Homo sapiens: one gene and its partners. The protein of the gene in region 4 interacts with the protein of the main gene of each other region in a biochemical or structural test. Each region holds a gene or a part of one and is shown on either strand. Other genes may lie near its edges. The genes, in order: PPP5C, CSNK2A1, FKBP4 and HSP90AA1.

Evidence for each region.
Region 1: the proteins of HSP90AA1 (region 4) and PPP5C form a complex in vitro, tested with the Homo sapiens proteins (4 studies listed by BioGRID, with this or other methods).
Region 2: the proteins of HSP90AA1 (region 4) and CSNK2A1 form a complex in vitro, tested with the Homo sapiens proteins (4 studies listed by BioGRID and IntAct, with this or other methods).
Region 3: the proteins of HSP90AA1 (region 4) and FKBP4 form a complex in vitro, tested with the Homo sapiens proteins (4 studies listed by BioGRID and IntAct).

What each region holds. Positions count from the first base shown.
Region 1 is NC_000019.10:46,350,080-46,357,112, forward strand, and holds part of PPP5C (serine/threonine-protein phosphatase 5), read left to right. Parts: intron 1-3,668; coding exon 3,669-3,910; intron 3,911-7,033. UniProt on the Homo sapiens protein: Serine/threonine-protein phosphatase that dephosphorylates a myriad of proteins involved in different signaling pathways including the kinases CSNK1E, ASK1/MAP3K5, PRKDC and RAF1, the nuclear receptors NR3C1, PPARG, ESR1 and ESR2, SMAD proteins and TAU/MAPT.
Region 2 is NC_000020.11:484,775-491,807, reverse strand, and holds part of CSNK2A1 (casein kinase II subunit alpha), read left to right. Parts: intron 1-1,926; coding exon 1,927-2,028; intron 2,029-3,029; coding exon 3,030-3,130; intron 3,131-4,232; coding exon 4,233-4,381; intron 4,382-5,345; coding exon 5,346-5,432; intron 5,433-7,033. UniProt on the Homo sapiens protein: Catalytic subunit of a constitutively active serine/threonine-protein kinase complex that phosphorylates a large number of substrates containing acidic residues C-terminal to the phosphorylated serine or threonine.
Region 3 is NC_000012.12:2,790,761-2,797,992, forward strand, and holds the start of FKBP4 (peptidyl-prolyl cis-trans isomerase FKBP4), read left to right. Parts: upstream 1-4,209; 5' UTR 4,210-4,379; coding exon 4,380-4,484; intron 4,485-5,180; exon of another isoform or gene 5,181-5,608; intron 5,609-6,116; exon of another isoform or gene 6,117-6,186; intron 6,187-6,377; coding exon 6,378-6,522; intron 6,523-6,968; coding exon 6,969-7,111; intron 7,112-7,232. UniProt on the Homo sapiens protein: Immunophilin protein with PPIase and co-chaperone activities. Component of steroid receptors heterocomplexes through interaction with heat-shock protein 90 (HSP90).
Region 4 is NC_000014.9:102,080,209-102,084,044, reverse strand, and holds the end of HSP90AA1 (heat shock protein HSP 90-alpha), read left to right. Parts: intron 1-61; coding exon 62-252; intron 253-351; coding exon 352-499; intron 500-742; coding exon 743-1,011; intron 1,012-1,600; coding exon 1,601-1,934; intron 1,935-2,223; coding exon 2,224-2,333; 3' UTR 2,334-3,303; downstream 3,304-3,836. UniProt on the Homo sapiens protein: Molecular chaperone that promotes the maturation, structural maintenance and proper regulation of specific target proteins involved for instance in cell cycle control and signal transduction.

The DNA of each region.
Region 1 (7,033 bases), on a different chromosome or scaffold from region 4:
GGGTCAGGTTTGTGTTTTAGGAACACCCCTCTGGAGGGGCAGGACAAGAGGCTGCGAGGCCAGGTGGAGGCTGAGCCAGGAACCTGGGCAGGAGAGGCCAGACCAGGGCTGGGTGGGGCTGGAGGGTGAGAAGGGAGTGGCTGAATCTGAGAGATGTTCAGGAGGCTGACTTGGCAGAATAAGTGAAGTGACTACCGGGCTTTGGGGGCTGAGGGATGGAGAGGAGTCCAGGATGAGGCTGTCTCAGCCAGGTGATGGGGTGGAAGGTGGAATTCCCTGGGATGGGAGCAGCCTGCATGGGGGTTGCTGCTGAGGCCGCATCAGAATTCTGGGCCACAGCAGCCATTGGGAGGAGCCTGTTGCCCCCCAGGACCTGGGATCCAGGCTCTCAGGAGTCCTGGGGCTGGGCAGGCAGCCAGAGGGGCCTGGCACTGAGCTGGCACGGAGGAGAACGGCCCTGCTGGCCCAGGCCCCTTGCTGTCTGTCAGGCAGTAGCAGGCACAGAGCCCCAGGCTCCAGGGCTGTGGGAATAACAATAAAAAAGAATAATGACAGCTCACCTTAATTGAGCCTTGTGGCCAGGTACGCTGTGGGGTTTAATCCTCCCCGGGGGCTGGGAGATGGCTAGGAGTGGCCCTGTTTGTTTTATAAAGGAAGCAAGGCTCGGAGAAGTGAAAAAACCACTCGCCCAAGGTCAGAGTGTGTGAGCAGCAGGGCCCGGATATCCCCTTCCTCGCCACGTGCTTGGCTCCCACGTTCAGGTTCCTCCCAGAGCTGTACTGGCCCTGTTGAGGAGAAGAGGGGCCCCAGCAGGGAGAAGAGAGGTCCCAGGGCTCAGAGGACTGTCCCCTCAACTGTGGCTGGTTGCTCTGTAAGTTCAGGCCTATTCCAGAAATCCTGGGGGCAGAGCCTCGTCCCCCGTCTCATGTCTGAGTCTAAGGGAAGTGTCTCAACTGTCTTCCCCTCTCTGTGGGCCTCAGTGCCCCGCTTCTGTAAAATGGGGGGTGGGGGCTTATGCTTAACCCCTAAGGAGGCTCCAGGTATAAGAGCTTGTGGGGAGGAAGCAGGCCATGGTTGAGAGCTCAGGCTGCCTGGGTTCAAACCCTATGTCTTCCTTTACCTGCTTGATGACGCCTGGGCAAATGACTTAACTTCTCTGGGCCTCTGTTTCCTTGCATCTAAAATGGGGAATGTCTTGAGGCTTAAATATGGTCCTGTTTGTAAAGCGCATAGAACAGGGCCAGGATATGGCATGTGGGTCGACCCGTGGAGTACAGGCTCCTCCCATTTCCTCTTGTTCCCTTCACTTCCTCCCTTCATTTAGTCATTCACGCATTCACTTCTTTTGCCTGCTTCTTTTGCTGCAGCCAGTTTTCTTACACAAGTTCGTAAAATCCTCACGGCCACCCAGTGAGGCAGAGCTCAGAAAGAGGAGGCTATTTGCCTGCAGCCTCGAGTTAGAGATCTGCAGAGCCGGGTGGCAGGCCCTGAGACTCCAGGATCCCCTCCCTGTGCCACTGGAGTAACAGCTGCCCCATCAGGAGCGCGGGCCAGGCAGCCTCTGGACCACAGCCAGGAGGCCTGAAGGAGTCCTCAAAGGCGCTGGCATTCCAGGGAGGGTCGGTCAGATCTGGGCTGCCCAGTTCTGCCCTTGTTTGTTTTTGGGAAGTCCCGGGCCCTGCCCTCCTGGGGCTTACAGCTCTGGAGGGACACACTCATTACTCAACAGTGACGATGAGAGTGGACAGGGCTGGCACAGGAGATCCCAGGGGCTGGGGCAGCCCAGTCGGGGGCCTGACCCAGCCTGGGAGTAAAGGAGGGCTTCCCGGAGGAGGGGACATGTGAGCATTTGAAAGATTGCCAGGAGTTGGCGTGGCAAAGAGGAATGTTGTTAGATTGTTGCTGGCCACATCCCCAGGACCCGGCTTCTCCCTTCTGTAATGTCAGTCCTCATCTCTCTCTGCATCCCTCCTTCCTTTCCCTCTGGAGCCACTCATGGAGCCTGGGACTCTCTTCTTCCATCTCTTCAACCAACTGACTCCCATCCTCCAGGTCTCAGCCCCAGTGTCCCCTCCGAGCTGCCCCAACCCTAAACACTGGGCACCACTGTCTAGGGATGGATCTGTCTCCTCCACTGGATGGTAAGCCCTGGGAGGGCAGGGCTGTGTGTAAGAAGGACTCTCGGAGTGCTGTTGAGAACATTAAAATGGGAGTGAGGGTGGGGACTCTGTGCAGGGCTGCTGGTAGAAGGACTCTAGGAAACCCTAGTCCACAGGGGGTTCCTCAGTAGCCCAGGGATACCCAGGTAGTAAGAGGCAGAGCTAGGGACTGGGCCCAGGCCACCTACTCCTGCCTCTGTGCTTACCCCTGTGCCACGCTCCTGCCCAGAGGTCACCATGGCATGGGGCGTGAGAGTGGGAGCCTTTTGGTCTTGGCCTGGCTCAGAAGGCCCACTTCTCGGCCAGGCGCTGTGGCTCACGCCTGTAATCCCAGCACTTTGGGAGGCCAAGGCAGGAGGATCACGAGGTCAGGAGATCGAGACCATCCTGGCTAACACGGTGAAACCCCGTCTCTACTAAAAATACAAAAAATTAGCCGGGTATAGTGGCGGGCGCCTATAGTCCCAGCTGCTCGGGGGGCTAAGGCTGGAGAATGGTGTGAACCTGGGAGGCGGAGCTTGCAGTGAGCGGAGATCGCACCGCTGCACTCCAGCCTGGGCGACAGAGCGAGACTCCATCTCAAAAAAAAAAAAAAAAAGAAGGCCCACTTGTCACCTGCTGTGTGACCTTGAGCACCGGCCTTTCTTCCCTGAGCTTCAGTCCCCAGATTTGGAGACGGGGGTTAATGTAGTTTCCCTGGGCTTGTGAGAGTTCAGTGAAGGGGGACCTGTGTACTAAAGCCCTGCATGGCTCTGGTACATCACGGCCCCCAGTGGGGACAAGCCTCTAAGGCTGTTTAAGCCTTGGCTCTCCTGCCTGTCAAATGGGCACGAGGGAGGGATCAAGCCTGGCTCTGCAGGTGCAGACAGGGCATTTGACCTTGAGCAAGACCTCCATGGCTTGTCTGTAAAATGAGCACCAGATGGTCCTTACTCCCGTGGAGACATGAGGATTCCACAGGTCACGAGGTAAAGTGCAGGGTACAGCTATAGCTCATCTCAAATAAAATCCGACCTCTCCTCCTTGGCCAGATGTCACATCCTGTCACTCCACACTTAGAACATCAGTGTCCAGACCTCACTGTGGCTGCCCGGGGCCCAGGGATCTGTCCCACCAGCCTCCCTGCCTCATCTCTCCTCCCCCTGCCCACTCCACCCAGCTGCCTCAGCTCTCACTGGCCCTCAGACAAGGCTCAACCACCTCTGGGCCTCTGCACCTGCTCTTCTTGCTATCGGAGTGCTCTTCCCTCAGTCTGCTGCTAGTGCCCAGCTTGGGGCTGGAGGGGTGGGTGGGCGGGTGTGTGGAGTCCTGGAGACTGTGGCCGAGAGGACAAGCCCTGAGCTAGGTTGGTTGGGACAGGCAGGAGGGGCAGGCTGAAGAGATGTCTCTGGGCTCAGGGTAGCCCTCAGCTTCCCCATCTGTGAACAGGGAGACTGGGCGTCACCCAGCCCAGGGCCTGTCCTCGCAGGGTTGGAGCACTGCCTCATGCCTCTTCTTCTGTCTCCGCAGCCAAGGACTACGAGAACGCCATCAAGTTCTACAGCCAGGCCATCGAGCTGAACCCCAGCAATGCCATCTACTATGGCAACCGCAGCCTGGCCTACCTGCGCACTGAGTGCTATGGCTACGCGCTGGGAGACGCCACGCGGGCCATTGAGCTGGACAAGAAGTACATCAAGGGTTATTACCGCCGGGCTGCCAGCAACATGGCACTGGGCAAGTTCCGGGCCGCGCTGCGAGACTACGAGACGGTGAGCTGGGGAGTGGGCCAGGCCTGGCACCTGAGCCAGGCAGATACTGAGGGCTGGGCTGGCGGGGACGGGTGTGAGGAGCCATTCACTCCTCTACTTACCACTCAGCCAGCCAGCAAGTGCCTGTGGGGCCTTGGGCCCAGGCCAGAGTACCCAGGCCACAGCTCTGCTCAGCCATCTCACATTTTGTGACCCTGAGCCAGTTACCCCGCCTCGCCACACCTTCCTTTCCATATCCGTGAAATGAGGAGAACAAGAGGATCAGCCTCAAGGGTAGCGGTGAGGAAAAGTGAGCTTTTGCCTTTCACACGAGTAGACCAGTACTTGGCCCGGGGTCAGTGTCCTGTGATGGTTCACCTGATGGTTACTGTCATTGTTAGTGCTGGTGCTGGACAGGAGCCACACAGCCTCTCTTCTTCTGGTGGAGCTTGTCTTTCAGGGGCAGGCAGAAAACCCACCACTGAATAGGTTAGCAGAATAATTGCAGGTGAGGATCTGCACTTTGAAGAAAAGAGGAAGGGCAGTCGGGCACAGTGGCTCACGGCAGTAATCCCAGCACTTTGGGAGGCCAGGGTGAGAGGATTGCTTGAGCCCAGGAGTTTAAGACAAGCCTGGGCCACATAGGGAGGAGACCTCATCTCTACAAAAAATACAAAAATTAGCCAAGCGTGGTGGCACGCACCTTTAGTCCCAGCTACTCAGGAGGCTGAGGCAAGAGGATTACTTGAGCTCAGGAGCTCAAGGCCGCAGTGAGCTATGCTCTCACCACTCCACTCCAGCCTGGGCGACACAGTGAGACCCTGTCTCAAAAAAAAAAACAAGAAGGGTGATATGCTGCCAGGGACAGCAGACAGGATATGTGTGATATGCTGATGAGGGAGGGGACCTAGGGCACAGTGAGAATTCGCTAGTGCCCTCACCCACCTAATGAAAATCCTGACGGTATGAGGCTCTGCAGAGCGAGCACACACCTTCACACCAGGTGTGCTCTGCATCTTCCTTCAGGGAGGCTGGCTGAATCATTACAGCACCCTGGGACGTGGGAACTGGGATTACTCCCCTTGCACAGATGAGGAAACAGTCCCTAAGGGGTGAAGTCACCTGCCCAGTGACCCCCACCTGGTTAGTAGCAGAGCTGGGATTTGAACCCAGGAGGCCTGGCCTCAGGGCCTTATCTCTCCCACCTCAGAGTTCGCTCCCTGAGACGGGGCCGTGCGCTTGTCCTGCGCATGGGGATGGTGCAGCAGGGGGCTTGGTCAGTGTGTGTCGAGAGGATTGTTATCCTGCCCCCCGACACAGACACACTTCACTCCCTCCTTCCCTTGCAACCATCACACTCGGAGCTGCTTGTGTCGTGTAGGGAGGGGCAACCAGGGAGCTGGGAGCCGCGAGTCTGCAGTTGGTCGCGGGGCTGAGAAGCACGAGTCTGCAGTCGGTGGAGCCAGCTCAGACACTGTCCTGGCTGTTGGCCGCTGGCCTGGGGTGGAGGGTGGACTTCAGGCCAGGTGAAGGCTTGAGCTAAGCATGAGTCCAGGGGACACATGTTAGGATGGGGGCAGAGATGTGGCGGGGGGTTAGGGCGACACCTAGAAGGGTGGGGGCAGGGGCAGCAGAGCAGAGGCCTTCCCAGCTTGGGCTCCCAAGCCATTCTTGGCCAAGCCCCTCCCTCATTGTCTCTTCCTGTCCTAATCTAGAAAATGGTGACAAGAGGAGTGGCCGCCTCCGGATGGCTGTGGCTGTGATGACATGGTTGAGTAAAGGTCACGAGCTGCAGGGCTCAGTAATGAGTAACCAAGGACAGTCGGTGTTGGGTTGGGGCAGGGCTCCAGGTGGGAAGGGGGCCTGGGGAGACAGTGGGGCAGAAGAGAGGAGCCCCAAGGACAGGTTTAGGGCAGGGTCTTCATCTCGTGTGGGGCTGCAGGAGCATCTTTCCCCAGGGTAAGGAGCAGGGGCTGCAGGCAGGGTCTTCGTCAAGTGTGGGGCTGCAAGAGTGTCTTTCCCCAGGGTAAGGAGCAGGCTTTTCAAGACTCTGGCCCAGTCTAGGGCCCAACCCCGCATACTCCCAACCCCGCATACTCCCTGAGGCTGGGCTGGTTGGCTTCAGCCATCTTGTGGGTGTGCCACGTCTGAGCTGTGTCCCAGGCCTGGCGGATGGCAGGGAGGGTTGAGGGGGTGGGGAATTCAGAGTCTTTTACAGAATACCCAGCACCTAAATTGTCATGGCCCATTTCCCCATGGGGGCTCTCCCAGCAGCATTGGGGACCCCCACATGAACATGAGGGCTTACCTGTCATCAGGCCATCCATATGCCTGCAGGCCTTCAGCCTTGCTCCTTTCTGCGCAGTTCTTCAGGCTCCATGTGCCCTGGGGCAGTTCATCTTCCCAAGACTCTACCTCCTGCTTGCTGGATGCTAGAGTTTCCTCCTAGACCAGAAGCTCGCCAGGGAAGCAGAGCAAAGACGTGACCTTGGCCTTGGGCGGGGGAGCTCCCCTTAGCCTCGGTTTCCTCAGCGGTCTGCTCACTCTGGGCCCAGCACTGCTGGGAGCCCTTTGTGCACCTGAATTCAGCCTGAATTCAGACTGAGGCCTAGAGAGGAGATGTCCCTCCTCCAAGGTCACCCAGCAGGGAAGTGGCAGAGCTGAGACTTGAACCCCTAGTCCATGCTTGTAACTGTTTCTGGGCCACAATCAGTTGAATAGCTTCAGCACTTTTGTCTTCATCAAACAGAGAATTAAAAACGGTTCATTGTTTGGAGGAAGTGTGTATAAATATTGTTTTGTGGAAATGACTTTTCATTTACACAAGTACAGATGAGTGATGGATGTGATATAAAAATCCCTATTTTACATGTGGGCTGCAGGCAGAGAGTCTGCGGTCACCAGTGCAGGGGCTAGATGGGGCAGGCTCTGGGCTCAGGACGCCTAGGTTCACAGCCAGCTCAGATTGGGTAGCAGCTGCATGGCTCCTAGTGCCTTTTTTCTCAGCCTTAGTGTCCTCATCTGTTAAAGGAGGTGAGAATATAGGAATAACAACCAAAGTGTTTTTTCTTTGTTTTTGTTTTTTGTTTTTTGTTTGAGAGAGAGTCTTGCTCTGTCACCCAGGCTGGAGTGCAGTGGCACAAA
Region 2 (7,033 bases), on a different chromosome or scaffold from region 4:
GGACTACAGGCACCCACCACCACCCCAGCTAATTTTTCTTGTATTTTTAGTAGAGACTGGGTTTCACTGTGTTAGCCAGGATGGTCTCGATCTCCTGCCCTCGTGAGCCACCACGCCCGGCCTTTTGTTTGTTTTCTGAGGCAGGGTTTTGCTCTGTTGCCCAGGCTGGAGTGCAATGCCATGATCATAGCTGACTGCAGCCCCGAACTTCTGGGCTCAAGTGATCCTTCCAGCTTAGCCTCCTGAGTAGCTGGGACTACAGGCGTGCACTACCACACCCAGCTAATTTTTAATTTTTTTGTGTGTAGAGAGAAAGTCTCACTATGTTGCCCAGGCTGATCTCAAACTCCTGGGCACAACCCATCCTCACACCTTGGCTCCCCAAAGTGCTGAGATTACAGGCATGAGCCACCATGCCCATCCTGTAACTAAGTTTAACCAATCTTCAGAGTAAATTCAAGAATGTTTTCTTGTTCTTCTGAATTGTATACTAAATAAAAAGGTCTTCTCCCCAGCTCCCCCAAAAAGCCTTCTTTCTCCTCACAGAAAAAGGAGAAAGGAACCAAATTAATAATAGATTTGCCAAGTGTTTAAAAATCTGAAGTTTTCTTGGGAGTATCTTTTATGCCCAGTCTTTCCAGGTTATTATCAGTTGATTTTAAAAGTTTCAGACTTTTTGTTCTTGTAGGAATTTCTTTCTTGGGGTCTTAAGGCTATAGCCCTGAGTTCAAAAAGCATTTTATGCATAAAAATAGTTTTTACAGTATTACTAATAATTGTGAAAAACAGAACACTGTCCTATTATAGGAAAATTAAAGATTGAATTCTGAAACATTTATGTAATAAAATACTAATGATACACATTAGATGGTCTCCATGGGCTAACAATTTGGAGGTTTTTTTTTTTTTTTTTTCATGTAAGTGAAGAAAACAATTCAAAATAGTATGTATATTAGCTGAGCATAGTGGTGTATGCCTGTAATCCTACCTACTCAGGAGGCCTAAGCCCAGGAGTTGGAGGCTGCAGTGAGCTATGATCACGCCACTACACTCCAGCCTGGGCAACAGAGCAAGACCCTGTGTCTTTAAAAAAAAAAAAAAAAGAGCCAGGCACAGTGGCTCACGCCTATAATCCCAGCACTTGGAAAGGCCAAGGCAAGTGGATCACAAGGTCAGGAGCTCAAGACCAGCCTGGCCAAGATGGTGAAACCCTGTCTCTACTAAAAATACAAAAAAATTAGCCAGGCGCGGTGGTGGGCGCTTGTAATCCCAGCTACTCAGGAGGCTGAGGCAGAGAATTGCTTGAACCTGGGAAGCTGAGTTGCAATGAGCCAAGATCACACCCCTGCAGCCTGGGCGACAGAGCAAGACTCTGTCTCAAAAAAAAAAAAAAAAAGTAAAAATTGTTTTAAAACCGAGTGAAAGATGCATAAAAGAAAAAACTAAAAAAAAAACTAAAAAAAAAAAAAAAAGAAAAAACTAGCCAGGCACGGTGGGTCATGCCTGTAATCCTAGCACTTTGGGAACCTGAGGCGAGCAGATCATGAGGTCAGGAGTTTGAGACCACTGGCCAACGTAGTGAAACCCCGTCTCTACTAAAAATACAAAATTAGCCAGGCATGGTGGCACGCGCCTGTAGTCCCAGCTAGTCAGGAGGCTGAGGCAGGAGAATTGCTTGAACCCGGGAGGCGGAGGTTGTGGTGAGCCAAGATTGCGCCACTGCACTCCAGCATGGGCAGCAGAGTGAGACTCTGTCTCCAAAAAAAAAAAAAAGAAAGACTAAAAAGAAATATATGAAGATGTTATTAGTGTTTTGATTTTGAGTCAGTGGAGTGATTTTTTTTTAATTTTAAAAATTAATTTTTTATTTTGAAGTGACAAGCCTGAGGATTCACAGATAATAACAGTGAGTTTACTTTTATGCAGATGTACGATTATAGTTTGGATATGTGGAGTTTGGGTTGTATGCTGGCAAGTATGATCTTTCGGAAGGAGCCATTTTTCCATGGACATGACAATTATGATCAGGTAATATATGTTATACCCATTGAAAAATGTACTGGCCTAATGCAATGATAGCCAGCACTGCCTGTAACTTTCAGTTCACTGTTTATTCAGCCACCCCGATATTGATCCTTAGATTGATGTTTCGGGAGCTACCAGCTTAGCCTTTTGAAATCAGACATTCCCCCCTAGTCTTTGTCATTTGCATTGCTTATTTTATTGTGAAGAATACATATAAATTGTCATCCAGATTTTTAAAATAGGACATTACCTTAGAATTCTCCTAATAAACCCTTATCTCCAATATGGTGTTTTCTCCAATATGTGAGCCCATATGTGGTATTTCTGTGATCCTTTTGGCTCTTTATATGGGTTGAGTTACAGATGTTTCTTAAACTAACTCCACTTCCCCCTTGAAGATCAAAGGGCTCTTTCATTCACAAGAACCTGGAATGATTCTAGGACCTTGTGGAAGGTACCATTGTCTTGTTCCCTTTGAGCACCATGTCCAATTTTAATGAGTCAAAGAATACAACCTGAATTCCATTAAAGTCAATAACTCTGTATCAAGTGCATGCAGTACTGAGGAATACAGAAAAAAGAAAGAATAGTTTTCTTCCCCTCAGATAGTTCATAGCTGATCTTGTAAGGGAGTCAAACATACAACAAAATAGGTTACAGTCATAACTTCAGAGTAGAAATGTGGACAAGGCACAAAAGGCAGTAGTGGTGAGTAGTTTGAGTGTGCAATGGGAGCTTCCCAAAAGAAGTGACATCTTCAATTGGGTTTTGAGGGGAGAAAAATAAGGGTTCACCAGGGTGACATTTCAAGAGGAAGAAACCAGTTTATAAAGTAGTTTGCTTTTTCTAACACTATCACATTGAGTTGAAGTCTAAACTGTTAGGAGGTAGCATTCATACCTGTAGACATGATGACCCGTTTATGTAAATTCAATCATTGTTAATTGTTGATTTGTTAATATAATATGCTTGTGATATGGGTTTTTGTCTTTCTTTAATACTAGTTGGTGAGGATAGCCAAGGTTCTGGGGACAGAAGATTTATATGACTATATTGACAAATACAACATTGAATTAGATCCACGTTTCAATGATATCTTGGGCAGGTAAGTCATGAAACAAAATATGTGCATCTGTGGCTTAAGCACTTTGAGAGTGAACTGGCACTTAGGATCTTCAAAATAGTTATGTTTTCTTTGCCAGCACTGTCAGGATGTCAGTGGTCCAGTGCCACAGGATGCTGCATTGAGCAGGCCTCTGATAAAGGCATTGGATTGAATGGCCCTTTATTCAAATTAACTTACAGGAGTCTGATGGAGGGGTTATAGCTAGAGGATTCCTACAAAATGAATGTAGATTCTAGTAGAAGGGTTACAGTTGAGGCAAAAATCAAAATTTACCTTGCTTCTTTAAGTGAAAAACCTCTCTCCAAGAGAAAGAAATTGAAGTAGAAAATGCATGCTTTAAGACTGATGTGCAGGCTGGGCACGGTGGCTCATATCTGTAATCCCAGAACTTTAGGAGGATCACTTGAGCCCAGGAGTTGGAGACCAGCCTGGACAACATAATGAGACCCTCGACTCCATGCATGGTGATGTGTGGCAGTAGTCCAGACTACTAGGAAGCTGAGGCAGGAGCTTCCCTTGAGCCCAGGAGGGAATGCTACAGAGAGCAATGAACATGTGGCTGCGCTCCAGTCTGGGCAACAGAGTGAGACCCTGTCTCCAAAAAAAAAAAAAAAAAGGCTATATGCAGACAACCGACTCTTAACAGTAGTGACTAGATATAGTACTTATACACTTAACCACTCAACAGGAGGAGATGGACTTTCCTGATGCAAAGGCTTTTGCTGGCCAATTGGCAGAGATGCCAGGAATATGTGTGGGGATGGGAAATAGGCCTGGTGAGCTCAGCCACCTGACCCTCCTTGCTACACAGAAGCGGTCACGTCCTGTCAAGTAACCTGAATTATGTTTCTTAAAATTGAGAGGACTCAGATGTCTTTTTTCACTCTAGCTATGTTGTTTCCAGTCTCCAGTTAGCTTTGTTGTCCCACTCAGTGGCAGAGCGGTGCAAGACTACCCTCTTGAGTTTGGATCCCTCTTTGCTTTTGTCTGGGCTGTTAGCCACTAAGAAAAATGTAGGAATGAAATGTTGGGCTTCTGTGCCCACGTGGCCCATTTCTCATGCCCTCTTTTGGTCCTGCAGACACTCTCGAAAGCGATGGGAACGCTTTGTCCACAGTGAAAATCAGCACCTTGTCAGCCCTGAGGCCTTGGATTTCCTGGACAAACTGCTGCGATATGACCACCAGTCACGGCTTACTGCAAGAGAGGCAATGGAGCACCCCTATTTCTGTGAGTCCAGATATCTAGCCCACAGAGTTTGTGCAGGCGCAGAGTCCTATAGAACAGAGTCGTAATCCCAGCTCCTGTCAGCTTGCTGCAAAGTTAATTCACCCACACTGAGCCTCAGATTCTTCCAGTGGGGATAGTGATGGCAACTACATTGCAGAATTACTGGAAGAATTCTTCTGTAACAGAATACATGACACAAGAGCATTCCTAAATAAACTCTTTTCATACTGTGAGGATGACACTTCTCAGTGCCTCAGTCTGGAATGGTTGAATTAGAATACACAGCCCTGTATCTTTCCTGTCCCTAGTAATCATTCGTTGGAAAGAGCTAATGAGGCTTACAAATCTTAAAATTGTATGAACACCTTGACTTAGATTTGTGAGTATAGCCACCTGTGCCATCCTAAGTGAAAATACCACTGAGACCCACCCCATCTGCACTGTGATGTTAGCTGCAACATGACATTTTTCCTTCGGTGTGATGGTTTTGTACTGAATCATTTATACTTTTGCCCAATACCTGAAGCAGATAGATAGGCTGATTGGGATAGAGAATGTGGTCATAGCCCTAAGCTACATGGACCTATAGCTTTGGCCTACTTGGTACTGGGCTGTGGACACACTGGTAATATATTACCGTCTTTGCCGAGTTACAGTGTCTTGTCTCCATTAAACCTCAACAGGACCAGGGCTTCATTAAATTCGCTCTGCTATAAATAATTACCTCATCTTTCTACCATTTGATTGAAAGGTTAGCTTTTACCACAGTTTGATAGGAAAGCTATTTCTGCTTTTTACCACTTGTCTAATTCATGGTGAAGGCAATTGCCACCTTAAGTTCTTTGGGGAATAATGTAGAGTATATATAAATTGCAAAGAATGAAGCTGGCTGCTTTCAGGCTTCCAGACCATTAGTTTAATCTTTCAAGCAAAACAGAACCTAGCCTTTTTGTCTCTTTTCTAGACACTGTTGTGAAGGACCAGGCTCGAATGGGTTCATCTAGCATGCCAGGGGGCAGTACGCCCGTCAGCAGCGCCAATATGATGTCAGGTCAGTTCATTGGTAAATTTTCTTTAAAAAAATGTGGAAGTCAATTACTGTTCTTAGCTTTGTGGTCTGATTTCTTGTATACCTTCTCTTCTCCGTACTGGTGGCCTTGTGACTTTTTTTTAACCAGGTTTCAGCATGCTTGACATTTGGTATACTTTAGTGATACTGTCTTGAGTAGGGTATCCCCTTCTAGGCTAGAATCTCAGCATTCCTGGCTGAAAATTTTTGGCATAGGGGCTTGAAAGTGCCAAGCCATGAAAAGGAAAAATACACCATTTCATCTTATAGTTTGAAATGACAGTAGTTACATGGCCCTTAGAAACAATGTTAAGAAATGGGGTATAGAGGTGGGGTTTATACATAGGTGTGTATGTGTACAAGGACAGTTCCGTGACATGTGCCAGAGCAACTATAGAGTGCCTATCAGTTGTAAAAACATAAGTAAAATGGTTTTCCATTATTGGATCATTGTGACGCACAGTGAATTTTTATAGAGTACCCAGTTATTCCAAAGGAACTACAGGCACATAGCATAAGAATTATACATATAGGCAACATCCAAGTGGGTGCATATCTGGTAGTGAAGGCATTTACTTACATATCCTCAAATAATTGCTGTTGCCCTCCTCTTTTTTAAGAAAAGAACTAACTGCCTTCTAGAATTTACCCCTTGAGTATCCTACCTCTGTACAGAGTAATGTATATCCAAACTTACTTGTAGCCTTATTTGTAATAACAAAACATTGAGAATAGCTATCAGTAGGAAACTGGTTAAATCAGTTATGGTATATCCATTTAATGGAATGTGGTGCAGCCAGTAGAATAAGAGTTTCATGTTCTGTTAGATCTCCAACTCCAATATAATAATGTGAAATTTAAAACGCAAGATGCAGGGCCAGGTGCAGTGGCTCATGCCTGTAATCCCAGCACTTTGGGAGGCTGAGGCGGGTGGGTCACTTGAGGTCAGGAGTTCGAGACCAGCCTGGCCAGCATGGCGAAACCCTGTCTCTACTGGAAATACAAAAAATTAGCTGGGCGTGGCGGCGGCGCCTTTAATCCCAGCTACTTGGAGGCTAAGGCAAGATAATCGCTTGAACTTGGGAGGCAGAGGTTGCAGTGAGCCGAGATCGCACCGTTGCCCTCCAGCCTGGGTGAGAGTGAGACTCTGTCTCAAAAGAAAAAGTGAGATGCAGAGCCATGTCTAAGAGGAGTGGAGAAGAATGTATAATAATGTTCTCATATATATATATATATATATATATATATTTTTTTTTTTTTTTTTTTTTTTTTTTTTTTTTTTTTTTTTTTTGGAGACAAGGTCTTGCTCTGTGGCCAAGGCTGGAGTGCAGTGGCACAATCTCAGCTGCTGCAGCCTCCGCCTCCCGGGTTCAAGCGATTCTCCCACCTCAACCTCCCAGGTAGCTGGGACTACAGGCGCCCGCCATGACGCCCAGCTAATTTTTGTATTTTTAGTAGAGATGGGGTTTCACCATGTTGGCCAGGCTGGTCTTGAACTCCTGACCTCAGGTGATCCGCCCAACTTGGCCTCCCAAAGTGCTGGCATTACAGGCGTGAGACACTGCACCTGGCCTTTGTATACT
Region 3 (7,232 bases), on a different chromosome or scaffold from region 4:
TCTCTACAAAAAATAAAATTACTGGGTGTGGTGGCATGTACCCGTAGTCCCAGCTACTTGGGGGACTGAGGTAGGAGGATTGCTTGAGCTCGGGAGATTGAGGCTGCAGTGAGCCATGTTCACGCCACTGCACTCCAGCCTGGGTGACAGAGCTCGAGAGCCTGTCTCAAACAAACAAAAAACACAACTGCATATTCCAGCAATCAACAGGCTGAAATGTGGCACACACACTACCACTCACCTACGCCCTGTGTACCATATACAAGTTCAGGTACTTCACATGTAATATCCCATTGCCAGTCTCAGTGGCTCACACCTGTAATCCCAGCACTTTGGGAGACCAAGGAGGATCACTTGAGTTCAGGAGTTCAAGACCAGCCTGGGCAATACAGGGCGATCCCATCTCTACAAAAAAAATTTTTTTAAGTTAGCCAGGCATGGTGGTCTGTGCCTGTGTAGTCCCAGCTATTCCAGAGGCTGAGGTGGAAGGATTTGCTTCAGCCTGGGAGGCGGAGTCTGCAGTGAGCTGTGATGCACGACTGCATTCCAACCTGGGCGACAGCGTGTGACCCTGTCTCCAAAAAATAAATAACCCATTTAATCTTCAGAGAAAACCCCTGAGAGAAAGGCATTATCATGACAGCCATTTTAGGGACAAGGAAACCTTCCTCCAGGACTCACACGGTGAGTTCAATGATGAAGCTGAGATTTGAATCCAGGTAAAGAGCTTGTGCTGGAATTGGAATCCAGGAGAATCCAATCCAGAGCCCATGAGCTTAACCTTCACGCAGGTCTTCACTATGCACAGGCCTCACATAGGGGCCTACTATTTTTAAATTGTATGAAAATGGGACTAAAATCACTAACATAAATAAATGTTTTAAGAAGTATGTAGAGGCCGGGCACGGTGGCTCACGCCTGTAATCCCAGCACTTTGGGAGGCCGAGGCAGGTGGATCACGAGGTCAGGAGATGGAGACCATCTTGGCTAACACGGTGAAACCCCGTCTCTACTAAAAATACAAAAATTTAGCCGAGCATGGTGGTGGGCAACTGTAGTCCCAGTTGCTTGGGAGGCTGAGGCAGGAGAATGGCATGAACCCGGGAGGCGGAGCTTGCAGTGAGCAGAGATCACGCCACTGCAGTCCGGCCTGGGCAACAGAGCGAGACTCCGTCTCAAAAAAAAAAAAAAAAAAAAAAGAAAGAAAGAAATATGTATTTTTTGGTCAGTAGAGTTTCTATTTTCTCAATCAACAGACACCAAAGTTAACAAGAAAATATGTAAAGGTCTTTAACGGCTTTTTTTTTTTTTGGCATTACATTTTTGACAAATTATACTGGGAACATTCTAACTTAGGCTGGGTGACAGATTTCCAGCTTTCATTGTACTGGTATACTGCATAACATGTATGCATACATGAACACACACACCTATATGCATTTCAGTCTTTTGAACGATCCAAATATCATACAATTATTTGGATGTTAAGTGCATTGGCAGCCTAGGAAGGTCAAGATATGAACTGTAGAAACAAGGGGTCTTCATGTGTAAATGATGGGCCCAGAGTTTGGGATCTGAGCCAGGTCAGCTCTAAGAGGCTCAGTGTGACGAAAACAAAGTTTCTGATCCCAGCAGGAGTCACCTACAGATAAGGTGGATGAGAAAAAGTGTGCTGACTTCCTCCCGCAAAAAAAGGGGACATTTTGGAAGAATTTCGAGTGGTACCGGTTACACATCTTTAATGAGAATACTAACTTAAATGGCCTGGGGAAAGGGTGAGGAGATAGAGGAAAGAGACTAAAACACGTGCACACTTTCTACAGTATATGTACTTTTTATGATCAGAAAAATATCACATAAACGACCAGGAAATATTCTAAGAGAAACAGTAAGTTCCTGCTCCAGGATTCAAGACCCCTAGTTTCCTCCTGTGGTTTCTCCTAGTTTCTGCCTGTGGTCCCCTAGTTTCCTCCTTCACTGTGTGGGGACAGAGCTTCTCACCGGGAACCTTGCCCTCTTGCCCTTCCCTGTCTCACAGACCTCTGTTTTCTTAGCCCTTTGTCCCCATCTCCACTGCAGCGCCTATCAGATCACACTAAAACGACCGTTATTTACCAGCTGCGGAGTTGGAGGCGAGGACTGAGCTAGATACCATACACAGATTCCCGCTTTTTTAACCATTAAATCACCCTCTTTTACAAATGTTACTATCTCTATTTTACAGACAAGAAATCGAGACATGAAGATTAACTAACCTGCCCCAATTTAAACAGCTAACATAACACATGGGCCGCCCAACGTCCCTTACTCCAAAGCACATGCTCATTCCACTAGGGTATTAGGCTATGTGTTAATGTAACGGCAGGCAATCTGAAGGGCTCCACTATGTACGTGCCGAACAGAATTAAAGGGGGGGTCCCACACTGTCCGCTTCCGATGAAGAAAAAGACGCAGAAAAGAAACCGCCACACGTGGAGAATCAGTAGGTGCAAGCCAAGGACAGTTTGCGGTAAACTGCCACCCCGGAAGCCAGCACCCACCATCCTGGTCTCCCGGAGTTTGGGTGACCCCTGGCACTGTTACTTCTGCATAAAAGTAGTGGATTTAACCCCTACAGAGGCAGCGCCCCGTATCCTCTGAAGCTGTCTCCAGCCACCTAAAGAGACGTCTTCATTATGGCTCAACTCATTTGGGCTGTAAATTGCTGAAGCGAAGGGCTTTTTCTTCTGCATCCCTTTCAAGTTCCGTCGGCAGGGACTACAATAAATCATCACATTATGACGCTGAAAGTTCATCTCTAAAAAGCTTTCAATTTAGTTTGATGAGACTAATGGCGTCCAATCGCACAGTGCCGGGCACATAACGGGAAGTCCAAAAATACAGTTATTATTGGAATAAAAATTCAGGCTGGGCGCAGTGGCTCACGCCTGTAATCCGAGAACTTTGGGAGGCCGAGGCGGGCGGATCATTTGAGACCAGATGTTCGAGACCAGCCTGGGCAACATGGCGAAACCCCGTCTCTACTAAAAATACAAAAATTAGTCGGCGTGGTGGCGGACGCCTGTAGTCCCGGCTACAGAGAGCCAAGATCGCACCACCGCACTGCAGCCTGGGCGACAGAGCAAGACCCTGTCTCAAAAAAAAAAAAAAAAGAAAAAAAAATCAGCCAAGACTTGGAAAAAGAAATTTAAAAAAGGAAAATTCATGCAGCCAGTAACTATTGGGACATCACTCACCAGGCACTATGCTAAACTGGGGTTAGGTGCTGAGCAAAACCAGGCCCCTCTCTAGATGGCTCTCTAGGTCCCACGACCATAGCTTAGGTGACACCGGCACCTGCGCGCTCCACAGCCTGTCGAAAAACACTCGGGAAGCAAACATTGAGAAGAAAATACTCCTTCTGTGGGCCTTTAGGAAAACCGAGTGACTTTTTTCGTGAGGGGAACCCATCTTTGTAAGCATTCGCGGAAACGGCAGTTTTATTACCGCCGGGAAGGGTCCCCTGAGTGTGTGCCCCATCTGAGTTCCGAGCTGGGCGGGCCATGCCTTGCCAACCCCGCTGCTCGCAGCATCTGCAGGCGCTGAGCGAGGCATCGCTGCCTGGCCGGGGCTTCTCGGATCTGGGGAAATCGAGGTCGCTTTCCCCGGCTCTCTGCAGCGGGGCAGCGCTGTCCACTCACTCCCCGCTCCCCGCGCACGCCCTTGCCCTCTTTCCCCCAAGTAGGGAAGGGTCTACGCGGGTCATAGCAGAGAGGCCACGCCGCCCGTGGTGACGGCCGGTCCCGGGGAGGGGGCGCCGCCACTGCCATCCCGCAGCCTGCGCTCCCCACACCCCGCCGCAGGCGCAGCGGACTGGTGGAGTGATGTCGGGAGATCGATCGAGAAGAATCTGGAAGAATCCGGTTAGACAGGGAAGCGGGCGGGGATGGGAGGGAGGGAGGAAGGGCCAAGGGAGGCCGCCGGGGAGATCCCGAGTCCGAGGGTCCCAGGAGAAGGGGGAGGGGGCAGGCAGCCAGAAGGAGGCAAGAACCAAAAAAAAAAAAAGAAAAAAAAATTCCGAAGCGCCCGCAGCACTGAGCCCGAACCGGCTCAGTCCCGCCGTCTCTAGAAAGTTCTGCACCCCGCCCCCTCTGTCTGCGCTCCCGCTCCTCCCAGCCCCTCCCTCGCGGCGGGGCGGGACCAATCGCTCCCCGAGCCGCTCCTGACCCACCTACCCCAGCTCTCGCGCCGCGTGCAGAGGTGCTCAAGCCTCCTCGCGGTCCGCAGTCAGTGCCGCCGCGCCCGGCCTCCCGCACGCCCCGCAGGTAGCGCCCCCGCCCGCGGCCCAGAGTGCGCTCGCGCCGGCACCAGCTCCCGGATAAACGGCGCGCCGCGCGGAGATGACAGCCGAGGAGATGAAGGCGACCGAGAGCGGGGCGCAGTCGGCGCCGCTGCCCATGGAGGGAGTGGACATCAGCCCCAAACAGGACGAAGGCGTGCTGAAGGTGAGGGGCGGCGGGGCCTGCGGAGGCGTCGGAACCCGGGGCCCCGCGGGCCGCCCTTCCGCCGCGCCCGGAGCCCGCGGCCGGGCACGGGTCGAGGCGGCCGCCTTTGCAGCCTCGCGGCCGTCCCGCCGGGGGCCGGTGGCATCGCCGTCCCGGACCGGGCTGCGTCGTTTAAGGCACCGAGGCCGGCCATGCGCTCGGCAGGGGGGCGGCCTAGGTGCGCGGGCCGAGGCCCCAGGCTCCCCAGCCGGCAGCGCCCGGGCCCGGGCAGGGGGTCGGGATTGCAGTGCCCACCCCGGCGCGCGCGGGGCGGCGGAGAGGGGCGGGGCGAGGCGACCGCCGCGGGCACCCGAGCCGCAGCCCGGGGCCAGGCCGGGCCTCCCACGCCACGCCGCCCCCGACCTCGCGGCCCCAGCGGAGCTGCCAGCCGCGGGCCGCCTCGTTGGTGGCGGTGCCAGGGCTCGCCCACCCGGGCGGTGGAACACGGGCCAGGACGGGGAGCGACTCCCCACAGTGCTTTCCTGGCCCTTCGGCCTTTGTGCGACGCAGGCGCGACAGGGTTCCGGCGCCCTCCCGGGGTCCCCTGCCGACGCCGGGACCCAGCGAGGTCCCCACTCGCCGCGCGGCGCCCCCTCCCTCGGCCCCGGGGAGGCCGGGCGCGGGGCATGCCGGGAGCTGTAGTCCCCTCCCCCCTCCGCCGCCTCCCGGAGCCAGGGCTGCGGGGTGTGGGGCGGGGAGGAGGCGCTCTGCTGTGGAGCCTGCCGCCGAGTGACCGCTCGACTACAAATAGCCTGGGGAGCTGCGGGGAGGGCATCTTGACCTGGGCCAGGACAACCTGCCTTGGGTCGGAGCAGGTTCCAGGGAGAATCAGAGATGGTGAATTCCCAGCCTGCGTCTTATGCCTTCTCCCCATCCGCTGCTGCGTCCTCATCCTGGCTTCCCACCGCTGAGCTCCGCGTGTGCGGCACCCACCTCAGGGGGCCTTTACCTGGTCCAGAAGTGCATCTGTCTTTGCACCAGATTATTGGGGACCTCAAGCGTCTGCTCCAGCGGCTCTCCTGTGGCATGTGACTTCCCCTTCTCGCTCCAGCGTCCTGCCGTTTTCTACGAGATTGTTATTCCAGGAAAGCTCATTTCCCCTTTGATCCATCATTCCTTCCCTTTTACCTTTCTACTCCTCAAAGCCCCTGTCTATTCTTCGTGGAAGCTTTCCCTTGGAGGGTAACCACACACCTACCAGGTGGCGCTAAAGAAGCCTTTACGTTTCTGGGAAATACTCCAGCCCTGGACTAACTACCAGAGGAATACTCAGCTCCCAAGTCAGAGTTTAAGGTCCCATGGAGAGCCTCCGGGTTCACCTATAACCTGGTTTCTTCCTTACCTGTTTTGAACTGTTTCTATTCTCTTCACTCATACTCCTCTCGCTCTCCTGTCTCCAAACCAGACCTTAGTCTGACGACCACTGGCATGAAGGAAGAAGGAGGAAGTGTGGCATAAATACTTCCCCCTTTGCCGATTATAATAATAATCTATTATTCAACCTTTTACTGGTCTAATCTTCCAACAACTGTAGGAGATAGGGATTATCATCACTGCTTTACAAATAAAGTGTGGAGAATTTTAAAAACTTACCATACAGCGGAAACTTGAACTCAGATCTCTCAGCCTTTTGTCTCCTTTTTCAAACCAAGTCTTGCTGCACCTCAAGAAAGACAAGAAGGTTAGTTGACTCATAAGCCAAGCTGCTAGTAACTGAATCTGGAGGGACAAGTAGGCAGAGGAGGATGAACACAGAGAAGTCCCTTTATGTTCCCTCTGGAGGCTTGCAGGCAGTGCTGGTGCCCCTTTCTGCCCCAAACCCTGGGGTACTCACTTTCTCCCCCTTCCTCCCAGGTCATCAAGAGAGAGGGCACAGGTACAGAGATGCCCATGATTGGGGACCGAGTCTTTGTCCACTACACTGGCTGGCTATTAGATGGCACAAAGTTTGACTCCAGTCTGGATCGCAAGGACAAATTCTCCTTTGACCTGGGAAAAGGTAGGCGTGGTCAGTGGGCTGGTAGGATAGGTTCGAGGTGGACACAAGCTGTCACAAGCAGAAACCATTTTCTCAGGACCAAGCTCAGGGAGGAATGGTTTATCACAGTCTGTTAACTCTTTCGGTCACTCTTTTTTTTTTTTTTCTACCGTTCTGTAACTATATTGATCTCTGTCTCCCCTTCTCCTCATCACCTCCCAACACCTTACTCCCCCTTCAAAGGTGGACTGTCTTGCATCTTAAACTCTTTTGTTCAGGGTCACGTGATCTTTTACAGTTCTTAGACCTGGTAGCACTTAATACAACCAGGTACCTCACCTTCTGGTCCCATTTCTAAAGGATGTCCAGCTTCCCCATGAGTGTGGTGCAGTAACTCTTCAGGAGCACTGTTTGAGCCCAGAATCAGAACCCTGCTAAGGCGGTCCTGTTTGCTTCTGTACCTGCAGGGGAGGTCATCAAGGCTTGGGACATTGCCATAGCCACCATGAAGGTGGGGGAGGTGTGCCACATCACCTGCAAACCAGAATATGCCTACGGTTCAGCAGGCAGTCCTCCAAAGATTCCCCCCAATGCCACGCTTGTATTTGAGGTGAGTGTTTGGTCACTGAGATCCAGGCTAAGAGCCAGGCCTTATCTCAGCCCAATGCCTGGCTGCCCTCCAGCCCTTCCTGCTTCTTGGAGACAATGTAGCCAAGGCTGAGGGTCTGGCC
Region 4 (3,836 bases):
TTACATAGTACCAGTTTTGTCCTTGGAATGACTCAGTGCATTTGGTTTATATTTTTTTCAGACTTCATTAGAGGGGTGGTAGACTCGGAGGATCTCCCTCTAAACATATCCCGTGAGATGTTGCAACAAAGCAAAATTTTGAAAGTTATCAGGAAGAATTTGGTCAAAAAATGCTTAGAACTCTTTACTGAACTGGCGGAAGATAAAGAGAACTACAAGAAATTCTATGAGCAGTTCTCTAAAAACATAAAGGTTGGTGTAAATAACCATTAGTTTTCCAATTGGCCTCTTTAGTTTTTTTTTTTTTTTTTTAATTCAGAAAGTCTTTGTAAAGAACATACTTTGTTTCAGCTTGGAATACACGAAGACTCTCAAAATCGGAAGAAGCTTTCAGAGCTGTTAAGGTACTACACATCTGCCTCTGGTGATGAGATGGTTTCTCTCAAGGACTACTGCACCAGAATGAAGGAGAACCAGAAACATATCTATTATATCACAGGTAAGAGAACACTATGTTACAGTCATACACGTCGTTCTTACAATCTTGTAGGCTCTGTGGGTGTGTTTTCTACTCAGGTAGCACTGTTACAACTGGTATTGATCTAGGCAAGATAATTAACATGAACTAGGTCATTTTCTGTCTTAGGTTCTGCCTAGGTATCTGGCTAGCAAGAAAAGTCAGAGCTAGATGAAACCATTCTTAACTGTTAAAAGGTCTAAAAGTAACTTTGTAATACCTCAGGTGAGACCAAGGACCAGGTAGCTAACTCAGCCTTTGTGGAACGTCTTCGGAAACATGGCTTAGAAGTGATCTATATGATTGAGCCCATTGATGAGTACTGTGTCCAACAGCTGAAGGAATTTGAGGGGAAGACTTTAGTGTCAGTCACCAAAGAAGGCCTGGAACTTCCAGAGGATGAAGAAGAGAAAAAGAAGCAGGAAGAGAAAAAAACAAAGTTTGAGAACCTCTGCAAAATCATGAAAGACATATTGGAGAAAAAAGTTGAAAAGGTATGTGAATACAGCATTTCCTGATCATTGATACTTCTAAGGTGCTTTCAAGCTTAGTCATACATAGCCCATTTTCGCATGTTTTCAACTTAAAACAGAAAACTATGTTGTGTGTGGCTGGGCGCGGTGGCTCACGCCTGCAATCCCAGCACTTTGGGAGGCTGAGGCAGCGGATCACAAGGTCAGGAGATCGAGACCATCCTGGCTAACACGGTGAAACTCAGTCTCTACTAAAAATAGAAAAAAATAAACCAGGCGTGGTGGCACGGCCTGTAATCCTAGCCACTTGGGAGGCTGAGGCAGGAGAATCGCCTGAACCCAGGAGGCGGAGGTTGCAGTGAGCCAAGATCGCACCACTGCACTCCAGCCTGGGTGATGGAGCGAGACTCTATCTCAAAAAAAAAATTGTGCATGTAAAACATGAAATTATAACCTGTGCTCTTTGGATACCTAATGCGACATTTAAGTTGTATTTGACAGTAGATAGTATTTTGGATCTATTGAAATTTGGGTTCTACAGATTTCATTTCACAATGAAAGTTTAGGAATTAATCTTTCTAGGTTCCTAGTCATCACTTTTTGATTACAGGTGGTTGTGTCAAACCGATTGGTGACATCTCCATGCTGTATTGTCACAAGCACATATGGCTGGACAGCAAACATGGAGAGAATCATGAAAGCTCAAGCCCTAAGAGACAACTCAACAATGGGTTACATGGCAGCAAAGAAACACCTGGAGATAAACCCTGACCATTCCATTATTGAGACCTTAAGGCAAAAGGCAGAGGCTGATAAGAACGACAAGTCTGTGAAGGATCTGGTCATCTTGCTTTATGAAACTGCGCTCCTGTCTTCTGGCTTCAGTCTGGAAGATCCCCAGACACATGCTAACAGGATCTACAGGATGATCAAACTTGGTCTGGGTAAGCCTTATACTATGTAATGTTAAAAAGAAAATAAACACACGTGACATTGAAGAAAATGGTGAACTTTCAGTTATCCAAACTTGGAGCACCTTGTCCTGCTTGCTGCTTGGAGGTATTAAAGTATGTTTTTTTTAGGGATAAGTAAGGTCTTACAAGAGCAAAGAAATGAAATTGAGACTCATATGTCCTGTAATACTGTCTTGAAAGCAGATAGAAACCAAGAGTATTACCCTAATAGCTGGCTTTAAGAAATCTTTGTAATATGAGGATTTTATTTTGGAAACAGGTATTGATGAAGATGACCCTACTGCTGATGATACCAGTGCTGCTGTAACTGAAGAAATGCCACCCCTTGAAGGAGATGACGACACATCACGCATGGAAGAAGTAGACTAATCTCTGGCTGAGGGATGACTTACCTGTTCAGTACTCTACAATTCCTCTGATAATATATTTTCAAGGATGTTTTTCTTTATTTTTGTTAATATTAAAAAGTCTGTATGGCATGACAACTACTTTAAGGGGAAGATAAGATTTCTGTCTACTAAGTGATGCTGTGATACCTTAGGCACTAAAGCAGAGCTAGTAATGCTTTTTGAGTTTCATGTTGGTTTATTTTCACAGATTGGGGTAACGTGCACTGTAAGACGTATGTAACATGATGTTAACTTTGTGGTCTAAAGTGTTTAGCTGTCAAGCCGGATGCCTAAGTAGACCAAATCTTGTTATTGAAGTGTTCTGAGCTGTATCTTGATGTTTAGAAAAGTATTCGTTACATCTTGTAGGATCTACTTTTTGAACTTTTCATTCCCTGTAGTTGACAATTCTGCATGTACTAGTCCTCTAGAAATAGGTTAAACTGAAGCAACTTGATGGAAGGATCTCTCCACAGGGCTTGTTTTCCAAAGAAAAGTATTGTTTGGAGGAGCAAAGTTAAAAGCCTACCTAAGCATATCGTAAAGCTGTTCAAAAATAACTCAGACCCAGTCTTGTGGATGGAAATGTAGTGCTCGAGTCACATTCTGCTTAAAGTTGTAACAAATACAGATGAGTTAAAAGATATTGTGTGACAGTGTCTTATTTAGGGGGAAAGGGGAGTATCTGGATGACAGTTAGTGCCAAAATGTAAAACATGAGGCGCTAGCAGGAGATGGTTAAACACTAGCTGCTCCAAGGGTTGACATGGTCTTCCCAGCATGTACTCAGCAGGTGTGGGGTGGAGCACACGTAGGCACAGAAAACAGGAATGCAGACAACATGCATCCCCTGCGTCCATGAGTTACATGTGTTCTCTTAGTGTCCACGTTGTTTTGATGTTATTCATGGAATACCTTCTGTGTTAAATACAGTCACTTAATTCCTTGGCCTTACAGTGTCTCAAAGTTCTTTACAAATCTACTTAAAGCCATCCTGGCTGAGGCAGGAGAATCGCTTGAACCTGGGAGGCGGAGGTTGCGGTGGGCTGGGATTGCACCATTGCGCTGCAGCCTGAGCAGCAAGAGCGAAACTCCATCTCAAAAAAAAGATGAAAAAATCAGCCCAATAGGTAAGAGTCCCTCTGGGGACTGGGGGTGGTAATGGCTAAATAAAAGTCTTCACTTCTGAAATTTGGTGGTTCTAGAGACAAAACTTGGTTAGATAGCATATAGGATTTGCATTCTGAGCCTAACGCCATATATAAAAATGATAGGAAATGCCTGGGACTTGGATATGTGACAGTGTCTAAGGGGGCAGTGCACAGGCAGGGAGAGACCTTGTCTCAGTCTCGTGCTAAGCAGGTATTGAATGCTTGGTAAATGGCAATCACGTTTAGTCCTTTAAATTCTCTGAAAAGTTCTTAATCCCCTTCGATAATATACAGGAGGAATTACGTAAATTGAGGTCTTAGTAGTGGCTGAA